Linked DNA regions of Homo sapiens: region 2 is linked to region 1. Evidence: fine-mapped expression QTL. A gene starts in region 1. The other region holds a variant in brackets. All regions are shown on one strand. Distances are between the middles of the regions.

Region 1 (5,365 bases):
CAGAAATAGAGGGAAATAATCATGTATTCATTCAACTCATGTGTCCTGAACTTCCCAGAAGCCTGGCCCTTGTGGCGTGATGCCAGAGAGCCAGAGATGAGTCAGGAAACAAATTTCTGAGCAAGACAGATGGGGCGGAGGGCAGTGTTCAGAGGTCTGGAGAAGGAGCAGATAAAAAAACAGTCGGAGGGAGGAGACAGAAAACACAACTGGTAGGAGGATGAGTCAGAGAGGGCTTCCTGGAGGAGAGGGCACTTGAGCTTCTTATTAAAAGATGAGGGCATTTGGGGACATGGGGAAAGGTTGGAAGAGCATTCCAGGCAGAAGACACAGCATATGGAAAGAGTGGAGACAGAAATAAGGTGGGATGTGTGGGAGGGATTATTTATTTATTTATTTATTTATTTATTATTTTGTTTGAGACAGAGTCTTGCTTTGTCGCCCAGGCTGGAGTGCAGTGGCGCGATCTCGGCTCACTGCAAGCTCTGCTTCCCGGGCTCACGCCATTCTCCTGCCTCAGCCTCCCAAGTAGCTGGGACTACAGGTGCCCGCCACCACACCCGGCTAATTTTTTGTATTTTCAGTAGAGACGGGGTTTCACCGTGTTAGCCAGGATGGTCTTGATCTCCTGACCTCGTGATCCGCCCGTCTCGGCCTCCCAAACTGCTGGGATTACAGGTGTGAGCCACCGCGCCTGGCTGCGGGAGGGATTATTTATATAAAATAATTAATAAAGGGTAGGTGGAGAATGTTTGGAGGGGTGAGGTTGGGAGAGGGAGGTGAGGTTAGATCATGCAGCTCTTTCAGTCCAGGTGAGGGGCTGAAAGTTTGTCTAAGGCACTGGGGAGCCCTGGGAGGGCCGTGAGCAGGGCAGGGGCAGGTCAGTTCCGGGCACAGAAAGACCACTCTGGAGCCTCACTTGTGGGGAGAGGAATGAGGGCGAGAGAATGGAGGATGGGGCGGCCAGGAGGCTGGGCCAGGTGTGGTGGCTCACACCTGTAATCCCAGCACTTTGGGAGGCTGAGGTGGGAGGATTGCTTGAGCCCCAGAGTTTGAGACCAGCTTGGGCAACACGGTGAGACTCCATCTTAAAAAAAATAAATAGCTGGGCGTAGTGGTGTGGGCCTGTGGTCCCCATTACTCGGGAGACTGAGGTGGGAGGATTGCTTGAGCCTGGGAGGTCAAGGCTGTTATACCGCTGCACTCCAGCCTGGGGGACACAGTGAGACCCTGTCTCAAAAACAAACAAACAAAAAAGGAGGCTGGGGCAAGGGTCCCAGCAGGAGAGGACGAGGTCTGAGTGGCTGCTAGAGCTATGGGAGTAGAGAGGAGAGGAAGGAGAGGCAGAAGGAATAGAACTTGGAGACAGATAGGCTGTGAGGGTCAGGTGTGCCTGTGGTCAAGGCAATCATGTCCTCCATCCCGCTGAGATAAAATTGCCAGCTGGAAATGGAAGACAGCTTGATGGGAGAGAAGCAGATGTGAAGATGCCAGGAGGGGGTCAGGGCCCCCAGAACTGAGTAAGACTATTTCAATCTGGACTGTTTTAATTGCTAATAACGGAAACGCAAATCAAATTGACCTAAGCATAAAAGGAAGTTTATTGATTGGATGAGGGCTTCAGGCATTGCTGGATCCAGGTGTTCCAATCATCTCCAGGAATCCAACTGTCTGTATCTTTGGGCTATGCTTCCCTCGTGTTGTCTTTGCTCTCAGGCAAGTTATCTCCCTGCATGGTGATGTGGTAGCACCGAGAGCTCCAACCCTGGCTCTGACCAGCCCCAAAACCACAGGGGAAAAACCCTGTTTTCTAACAGGTCCAGCAAAAGTCCAAAGGTTGACTTTGTAGCCTAGATTGATTCTTAAGCTCGCCACTGAACAAATCACTGAGGAAATCAAGGTGCCACCACCTAGAACGAATACTTAGTAAGCAGGAACAACAGACAGTCCAGAGACCATCTGGATGTGGAGAAAGAGGAAGAGAAAGAGATACAAGTAACAGAGACAAAGACTGCAAGGACAGACAAAACAAATAAGCGAAGGTCCAGCTTCCTCTCCCACAATTCCTGCAGAGAGCTCTGCAGACCCAGAGAAAGGGATGCTGAACAGGCACCTACACGGCTAGACCCCTTCTCTCTAGCACGAGAGGCCCCGTGAGACCCCAGACCCAGAAGTCCAGGCCCCCATCCTCTCCTCCCTCAGACCCAGGAGTCCAGACCCCAGGCCCTCCTCCCTCAGACCCAGGAATCCAGGCCCCCACCCCTCCCCCTCCCTCTGGAGGCACCATGGCAACCAGGCCCCCTGCCCACCATCCCCTCCCCACTAGAGAACCCACTTTCGTTGGAATCTCGCCTGTTTCTAACCAGTTCCTGGCTGGGGCAGGGATGAGCAGAGGGCAAGTGGGAACAGAAAGGGGATGACAGAGGGGAGGGGGCCTCAAGGGGGCAGTGGAGGCAGCTAGGAGAGGATAGAGATGGGGCAAGGAGACTGGTGAGAGGTGGGAAGACAGAGAGAGGGTGACGGGGTTAGGGAGAGGCAGAAAACGATGAAGACAAGGAGGGACGGGGGCCTGGGGAGATGCTGGGGAAACTGATGGAGACTGAAGAGATGGAGCCCAGGAGAGAAGGAGGGAGGAGGAGGGCAGAGAAATCAAGCAAAAGAGTGGTGGAGACGTGGGGACAGAGGGGAGGAGGCAGGGGGGCAGAGAGATGGGGAGAGAATGAGGAAGGGAGGTGGAGAGAGAGGGGTGGGGAAAGGGACTCTAGGAGACAGAGAGAGATAGGAGGAAAAACAGGGAAATGGGAAAGAAGGGATTGGGGCACACAGGGAGTCCCTGAGGTCAGGGGAACCCAGATCTCCACATGGTCTCAGCCTTCCAGTTCCTCTGTAATTCTACCCCGGGGCTTCAAAGAGGAGGTAGAGGAGGCAGCGGTGGGGAGAAGGAGCTGGGGTGGGTGGCCCAGGCAGAGCCTCTCTTGCCACCTTCCTGAGACATCCCTCACCCACCTTCCCAGGATGCAGCCAGAGGTGGAGCCCGTGTGCTTCCCTGCCATGGGCAGCCCCACCATGCACAGGAAGGCAGGTACTGAGCTGTGTCTTTGGGGGAAGGGGTGGACTTCCTCCATCCAGGCAGTGCGTAGTAGCCCGGGCTCACAGTGTGGCCTTAAGCGAGTCACTGGCACTCCAAAGTGAAAGCCATCCCTAGCATTCCTGGATTCACCAGATTCCTGGAGAGCGGCCCCCTTGGACCTCAAACTACATTTCCCATGAGCCTCTGCAGTTCCTTGGCCAATGCCCTGGACTCAGAACTACATTTCCCATGAGCCTCTGGGGCCTAAGCAACACCTCTGAGGCCATTCTTCTCCTAGGTAACCTCACTGTCTTGTCTCCCACCCTGAGCTCAGCATCTTCCCCCAAAGCTGCTCTCCTCCTTCCTGGTTTCCATTTTCAAATGGCCCCACCGCCAACCCAGTCACTGGTGCCATCCTTCCACCTCCCACAATTCCCTCCCACAGCCCATCAGGCCCTATCTTCCTGCCCTCTGACTCTCCCTTCCCCATTCCTTCCTCTCTGTCCCCGCAGCCCTGTCCCAGGTCTCATCCTCTTCCATGTGGACCCTCTCCTCACCTCCTCCCTGGTCCCCAGTTTCTCTCCTCCTACCTATCCCTCCATGGCTCCAGAGAGGTCTCTCTGACTTCCTGCAGTGATCCTGGCTGTCCCTTGCTCATAACACTTCCTAGCTTCCTGTCACCTCTAGGACAGAGACCCAAAGCTCCAGCCTGGCTTTTGAGGCCCTGTGTGGTCTGACCCCTGCTGACAACTTCAGGCTCCTAGCCCAGCACTTCCTGCTAGCACTCTGTGCTGTAGCACAGCTCATGCAGTTACACTCATTCAACATTTATGGAGTAGTATCTCAGTGAGGATGCATGTAACTGCAGGTAATAGAAAACCAAACTCAGGACTGGGTGTGGTGGCTCACGCCTATAATCCCAGCACTTTGGAGGCCGAGGTGAGTGGATCACCTGAGGTCAGGAGTTCAAGGCCAGCCAGCCTGGCCAACATGGTGAAACCCCATCTCTAAAAATACAAAAATTAGCCAGGTGTGGTGCCGGGTGCCTGTAATCCCAGTTACTAGGGAGGCTGAGGCAGGAGAATCGCTTGAACCCAGGAGGCAGAGGCTGCAGCGAGCCAAGATTGTGCCACTGCACTCCAGCCTGGGTGATGGAGGGAGACTCTGTCTCAAAAAACAAAACAAACAAACAAACAAACAAAAACACCCAAAACCAAAACTCACTGCAGCCTTGAGCTCCTGGCTCAAGTGATCCTCCCACCTCAGCCTTCGAGGCCGAACAAATGCCCTGATGGCAAAACAGGCGTTGTTTCTCTGCCTTTAGGTCTCTTTTAGTGCTTTTGAAGGCATCTTTCTTTTGGAGACCCCACAATGCACCATCTCTAGCCTAGACTGAGGCACCCACGTGACATGTAATTTATATGTAGCTCCAGAAAAGTCAAGTGGAGTTGAGTCGACCAGTTGGCTAGTTTTGTTGATCGACGTTTGTTCATTTCGATTTTGCTGTTTTCTTTGCAGCGTTGTGGAACCAATCACATTTTTTAGTTGATCAGGTTGCAAACTTCAGCATAGGCCATTAGAAAGCCCCTGGGTCCCAAGCATTTTGCCTGTAGTGCCTAATGGATGAAACGGCCTGGCTTGTTCTCATGCTGGGAGAGGAGACGTGAAACACGCCATCTCACAGATCATTCATAGCCTCCAATGGCAATAAGCGCTCTTTAGTCTTGGGGCTCAAGGGAATTCTGGGAAGTTCTTGCAGGTGACTCTCTTCTCTTTTGCTCAAAAACCTTGGCCCATGCTAGGCCCTTCATGGGAAACATCCTTCTCTCTGTCACCTCTTTATTTGGTAAATACCTTCTTATTCTTTAGGTCTCACTGTGGACACCTCCTCTAGAGAGCCTTCCCTGATTGCCCCTAGACCGGGAGACTGGGCTTTCCCTCCACCTTGTAACACTTTCATTGAAACACACATTGCCCTTTATCTGAGAGTTCTGAAAGGGCAGAGGTGTGTCTCATTCATCTCTTGGTCCCCAGCATCCTCCAAGGCACACAGGGGCCCTCTGAGATGCCTGTTAAAAAAATTTAACCAGCTACTTGGGAGGCTGAGACAGGAAGATCCCTTAAGCCCAGGAGTTCCTGGCTGCAGTGAGCTATGACTGCACCATGACCCTCCAACCTGGGCAACACAGTGAGACTCTGTCACCAAAGGAAAAAAAAAAAAGCTTGAAATGGTTGCATTTCCTCAATTTTTCAATAAGTACTTATTTTTAAGTTTATGCTTATGTTAATTTAATT
Region 2 (5,365 bases), 21 kb before region 1:
GGTGCACGGGTGCTTGTCAGGGGTCGGTGTGGGACCCCTACTCACCTCCACTAGCTGATGCCAGTGCTCCACGGGCTTGCGGGGATTGGCCAGCATCTCTGCCCAGTGCTCGCGGCCGTGCGGGTCGGCAGCGTCGGGGCCCACACGGCACACGCCGATCACCTCGTTGTGCCCGATGCTGGGGGTTGGGGTCAGTGAGGACCGTGGAGGGTGGTGGGAGGGCCTGTCCCCACCCCAGCCCTCCTGCCTGACCCCCGCCCGGGCCGCGCCCCTCACCAGTCGTAGTCTACCACGGCGATGCTGAGCCCCACGTTCTCCACGCTCTCGGGGGCCACGTCGAACACCAGCGCCTCATTATAGGTGGGGTTCAGCGTGTTCTTCTTGATGGAGGTTTTCCGCTTCTTCAGACGCCGCCCCTCGCTGATCAGGGAGGCCTTCACGTAGGGGTCTGGGAACAGCAATGAAGTAAGGAACAGAGACTCACTCCCTCAGACCTAGGGGTCCAGGACCCCAGGCCCCGAGCCCCTCCTCCCTCAGACCCAGAGGTCCGGGGCCCCAGGCCCCCAGTCCCTCCTTCCTCAGGCCCAAGAGTCCAGACCCCAGGTCCTCCTCTCTCCGACCCAGGAGTCCAGGCCCCTGGCCCCTCCTCCCTCAGACCCAGGAGTCCAGATCCCCAGCTCCTCCTCCCTCAGACCCAGGAGTCCAGGCCCCTGGCCCCTCCTCCCTCAGACCCAGGAGTCCAGGCCCCCAGCCCTCCTCCCTCAGACCCAGGACCCTCACCTGAGAAGCCAGTGAGGTCCATCGCTTTGAGGTTAGAGGCTTTGATGATGGTCACGGTGAGGCGCCCGGCCGTGGGGAGGTAGCAGAGTGAGAAGTTGAGCTCCCCAAGATCTGCTTTTTCCTGCAGTTGGGGAAAAGGTCAGCGATATCTTGCCTCAGCCCCTCTTCAACTCTCCCTGATTTTCTCTCCGGTCGGAGCCTCCTGCTTTACACCCTGACATCCAGGGCTCAGGCTTCCCATCCACTTAGCAATCTGACTCTTGGGACAAGGCCCAGTAATTCCCTGGCCACAGCTGCCCATGACCATCAAAGCTTATTTGTTCTGCAGGAAAGATTGGAAGAAGCATGAGTGAGGGGAGAGAGAGAGGAGGGGAGAGACAGAGAAGGTGAGAGAGAGAGAAAACACAAAGAGAAATAGACTGAGACAGAAGCCAAAACACGGAGGGATACAGCTGGAAAGACAGACCCACAGGCAAAGTTCTCAAGTCAGAGGGACAGAGGCCCAGAGACAGACACAGAGAGAGACCCAGAGAGAGGGAGACAGAGACCCAGAAAGAGAGGGAGACAGAGACCCAGAGAGAGAGGGGGACAGAGGCCCAGAGAGAGAGGGGGGGGGACAGAGACCCAGAGAGGAGGACAGAGACCCAGAGAGAGAGGAGGACAGAAGCCCAGAGAGAGAGGAGGACAGAGGCCCAGAAAGAGAGGGGGACAGAGACCCAGAGAGAGGAGGACAGACCCAGAGAGAGAAAGGGGCAGAGACCCAGACAGAGAGGGGGACAGAGACCCAGAGACAGAGAGATAGAGACCCAGAGAGAGACAGAAGCCCAGAGACAGGGGGTACAGAGACCCAGAGAGAGAAAGAGAGAGAGATATATATAGAGAGAGACTCAGAGAGAGACAGAGGCCCAGAGAGAGAGAGGGACAGAGACAGTGGGTTGGGGGTGCATAAAGACCCAGAGAGAGTGATAGTTACCTAGAATTAGAGTGGAGGGGCAGAGACCAGAGAGCGAGAGAGAAACCTAGACTCAGATACCCTACTCCCTGCACCAAGAGAAAGAGAGAGAGAGAGAGAGAGGCTGACTCAGACAGAGTGGGACAAAGACCAAGCAGACACACACACATAAACCAGCCTGAGAGAGGGCAGGAGATTCATCAACCTCCACCGAAGTTTCCAGGACTGCCCCCAACCCTGACACACAGGCTGGAGCCACGCTGGAGCTAGCTGGGAGCTTTGACCAACCTGGCCTAGCCCTGCGGCCTCCCAACTGTGCCCAGGACTCCCTACTCATTCCCCTCAGGGCATCTGCCCAGGCTGTCCCTCTGCCAGAACACTCTTCCCTCTATCTCTCCTTGGCCTTTGAGCCTCCCCTCGTTCCACAAGCTCCCAGATCCCCCACAGCCCTGCAGAGGCTCCTCCTGTGCCTCCCCATAACCCTGGCCCCTGACACAAGGCCCGACCATCTAGACCTGGAGCTGCCGAGGGCTGCCTGGGGTCCCCAGGCCCTGCTCCTGAAAAAAACAGTGGTTGAAGAAATGAATGAAGGCTGGGTGCAGTGGCTGATGCCTGTAATCCCAGCACTTTGGGAGGCTGAGGTGGGCGGTTAACCTGAGCTCAGGAGTTCGAGACCAGCCTGGCCAGCATGGCGAAACCCTGTCTCTACTAAAAATACAAAAATTAGCCGGGCATGGTGGCAGGTGCCTGTAATCCCAGCTACTTGGGTGACTGAAGCATGAGAATCACAATCACTTGAACCC[G/A]GGAGGTGGAGGTTGCAGTGAGCTGAGATTGCGCCACTGTACTCCAGCCTGGGTGACAGAGAGAGACTCTGTCTCAAAAAAAAAAAAAAAAAAATGAGAGAGAGAGAATGTATGAATCAATGGAATGAGTGAGGAAAACCTCAAGTGATGATGATGGAGAGAGAAAATGAGAAGGGTGAGCACAAGAATTAGGCCAGCATGGATACAGAGAGAAGGCCCTGGCATGGGGCTGCCATGGGTGATGACTGGGAGTAGGAGCTGGTGGAATACACAGGGGCCCTGGGACCTTGGAACTGGGCACTTCAATCTCAAAGGCTGGGCTTGGGGGCCAAGCAGGCAGGCTGGGGAGGGCCCCATGAAGAAGCCTACCCAAAGAGCTACCCAAAAAGCCTACCTGGCACCCAGCTCAACTGGACATCTGTCATTGAACAGATGGGGAAACTGAGGCTCAGAAAAGGAAAGAACCTTGAGGAGGTCTAGTCCTCTCCTGATATGAAGGCCGCCCTCCCCACAACACACACACAGCTACCCCAGATTGGCAGAGAACTGGAATGTTGGATAATCCACAAATTAGGTTGGAGCGGGGGCGCTGTAGAGTTGAGGATCTGAGATTTGGTGGGGCAGAAGAGCTCAGGACACACACACAAGAAGTACCTAAGAATGGGGCTGGGGAGGGATTGGAGGTACAGGGAGAATGAGATACCAGAGGGCAGGGGTCGCAAGGAATAAGGAAGAAGCCATTGGGCCCTATAATCTGGATGCTGGGAGAACTGAGGAGTGTCTGCATATTGGGGATCCCAGGATGGCTGAGGCCTGGGGGATCAAGCTATCAGCATTCGGGCAGGGACCATGAAAAAACAGAGGGTCAGAATATGAAAGAGTTCCAATGTCAGGGGTTGGGAAAATTCAGAAGTTCAGAGATTAGAGAGGGATTGGGGCTTTCAGAAGTTCAGAGATTAGAGAGGGACTGGGGCTTCCAGAAGTCCAGTCATTGGAAAGTCAGGAAGTTAGGAAGGTAAGAAGTCTGGGGTGAGAGGGGAGAAGTCATGGGGTTGAGGCAGGAAGGCATCCTATGGCAAAGCGGGTGAGAGGTTGGAAAATCGGATCCAGACCTGATGCTAACATTTGGCGATGTTGAGGAGAGGAATGGTGTCCACTGTATCATTATCTGTTCTTTTTTTTTTTTTTTTGAGACGGAGTTTCGCTCTTGTTGCCTACGCTGGAGTGCAATGGCATGATCTCTGCTCACCACAACCTCCACTTCCTGGTGCAAGCGATTCTCCTGCCTCATCCTCCTAAGTAGCTGGGATTACAGGCATGTGCCACCATGCCCGGCTAATTTTTGTATTTTTAGTAGAGATGGGGTTTCTCCATGTTGGCCAGGCTGGTCTCGAACTCCCAACCTCAAGTGATCTGCCCACCTGGCCTCCCAAAGTGCTGGGATTATAGGCATGAGCTACCGCGCCCGGCTCATTCTCTATTCTTGCCTGTAAGTTTGCAGTCTTCCCCAGTGTGATACATTTTAACAGAAAAATGTGGGGACAAGAAGTGAGGAAGTTATGAACTCTGAGGGCAGGGGGCTTGCAACCCGGGGGGTCTCAGGGCCCTGGGAAGGGGAAGGTCAGGGGAGAGGGCCACTGACCGAGCCGCCCTCCACGATGTCCCTCCAGAGCGGGCGGTCAGGGGGCTGCTCGGCCAGCTCCAGGAGGTTGTCCAGCACCACCTGGCCGATGAGGTCGTGCCGCGAGAAGCGGTCAAAGTCATAGACGCTGAAGTGCAGTTTGCGTTGGGCCAGCTCGGCCAGGGGCACCGAGAATTGAAACGTCTCATTGAAGACGGGGTTCAGGGTCTTCCTGTGCACCTGGTGGTGGTGGGCGACAGGAGACAGACACCGTGCCCATAAGCCCCTCCTCCACAGGATCCAGGAGTCCAGCCCCCAGCCCCTCCTCCCTCAGACCCAGGAGTCCAGGCCCCCAGCCCCTCCTCCCTCAGACCCGGGAGTCCAGGCCCCCAGCCCCTCCTCCCTCAGACCCGGGAGTCCAGGCCCCCAGCCCCTCCTCCCTCAGACCCGGGAGTCCAGAGCCCTAGCTCCCTCTCTGTGGGAACCCGGTGTCCAGCCCGCTGCTCCGGACCTTGGTCTGAAACTTTTTCTTGCGGTCAGGCAGCAGGTAGATCTTGACGTAGGGGTCTGAGAAGCCGTTGGAGTCCTTGGCAGGGAGGTCCAGGGCCTGCAGGATCCTCACCACCAGCTGGTCCGAGCCATAGAGGTACCGCAGGGCGAAGCTGATACGGCCACAGGGTGCCCCTGTGCCTGCCTCTCCAGAGCCTGGGCCCCCACCGCTCCGCCGGCCACCAGGGCCAGTCCCCTGGTACAGCTCTGGCTTAATCTGCCCAATGAGTTTGGCTTTTTCCTCGCCTCCAGGCAGGGGTAAGGGCAGGGCAGGTGGCCGCTCCTCACTGCTGGGGTCCGGCTGGGAGGTCAGAGTCTGCTGGGTGAGGGGTCGGGGCAGGGCTGGGTACCTGTAGGGGGTTGGGGGGAGACCAAGGTGAGGTCAGTGGCTCTGATCTTCGACTGCATGCAGAGACCTGGGAGACTCCTCCCTGCCTTTCCCCCCATCCCCCAGCCAGGTGGCCACAAGTCCCCTCCTTTGCTCACTGTGTGAGCTTGAGGAAGCCACTGTGCTCTCTGAGCCTCAGATTCCCCATTGGTATCTGGGGGGCATTCCTTCTCTCCCTCCCTCCCTCCCTCCCTCCCTTCTTTCCTTCCTTCCTTCTTTCCTTTTCTTTTGAGACGAAGTTTTGCTCTTGTCACCCAGGCTGGAGTGCAAAG

The links. PIP is the estimated chance that this variant, and not a neighbour inherited with it, causes the effect. A credible set is the group of variants that fine-mapping cannot tell apart.
Region 2: its variant is the best candidate, but not a certain one, in a credible set for the expression of C19orf81 in prostate (GTEx, PIP 0.69).

Annotation. Positions count from the first base shown.
Region 1 is chr19:50,646,430-50,651,794 of GRCh38, forward strand. It overlaps C19orf81 (chromosome 19 open reading frame 81), which reads left to right and starts at 3,016. Exons shown (of 5, transcript NM_001195076.2): 1 at 3,016-3,082. The coding sequence starts at 3,016. It also overlaps a transcript of SYT3 not described here. RefSeq lists enhancers at 1-277, 1,900-1,949.
Region 2 is chr19:50,625,117-50,630,481 of GRCh38, forward strand. SYT3 (synaptotagmin 3) reads right to left here. Exons shown (of 11, transcript NM_001160329.2): 5 at 4,668-5,055; 6 at 4,178-4,396; 7 at 781-901; 8 at 277-448; 9 at 46-178. Among named protein-coding and RNA genes, the nearest start is that of SYT3, 12 kb to the right of the region's middle. The variant G/A (reference allele first, on the strand shown) is at 2,536.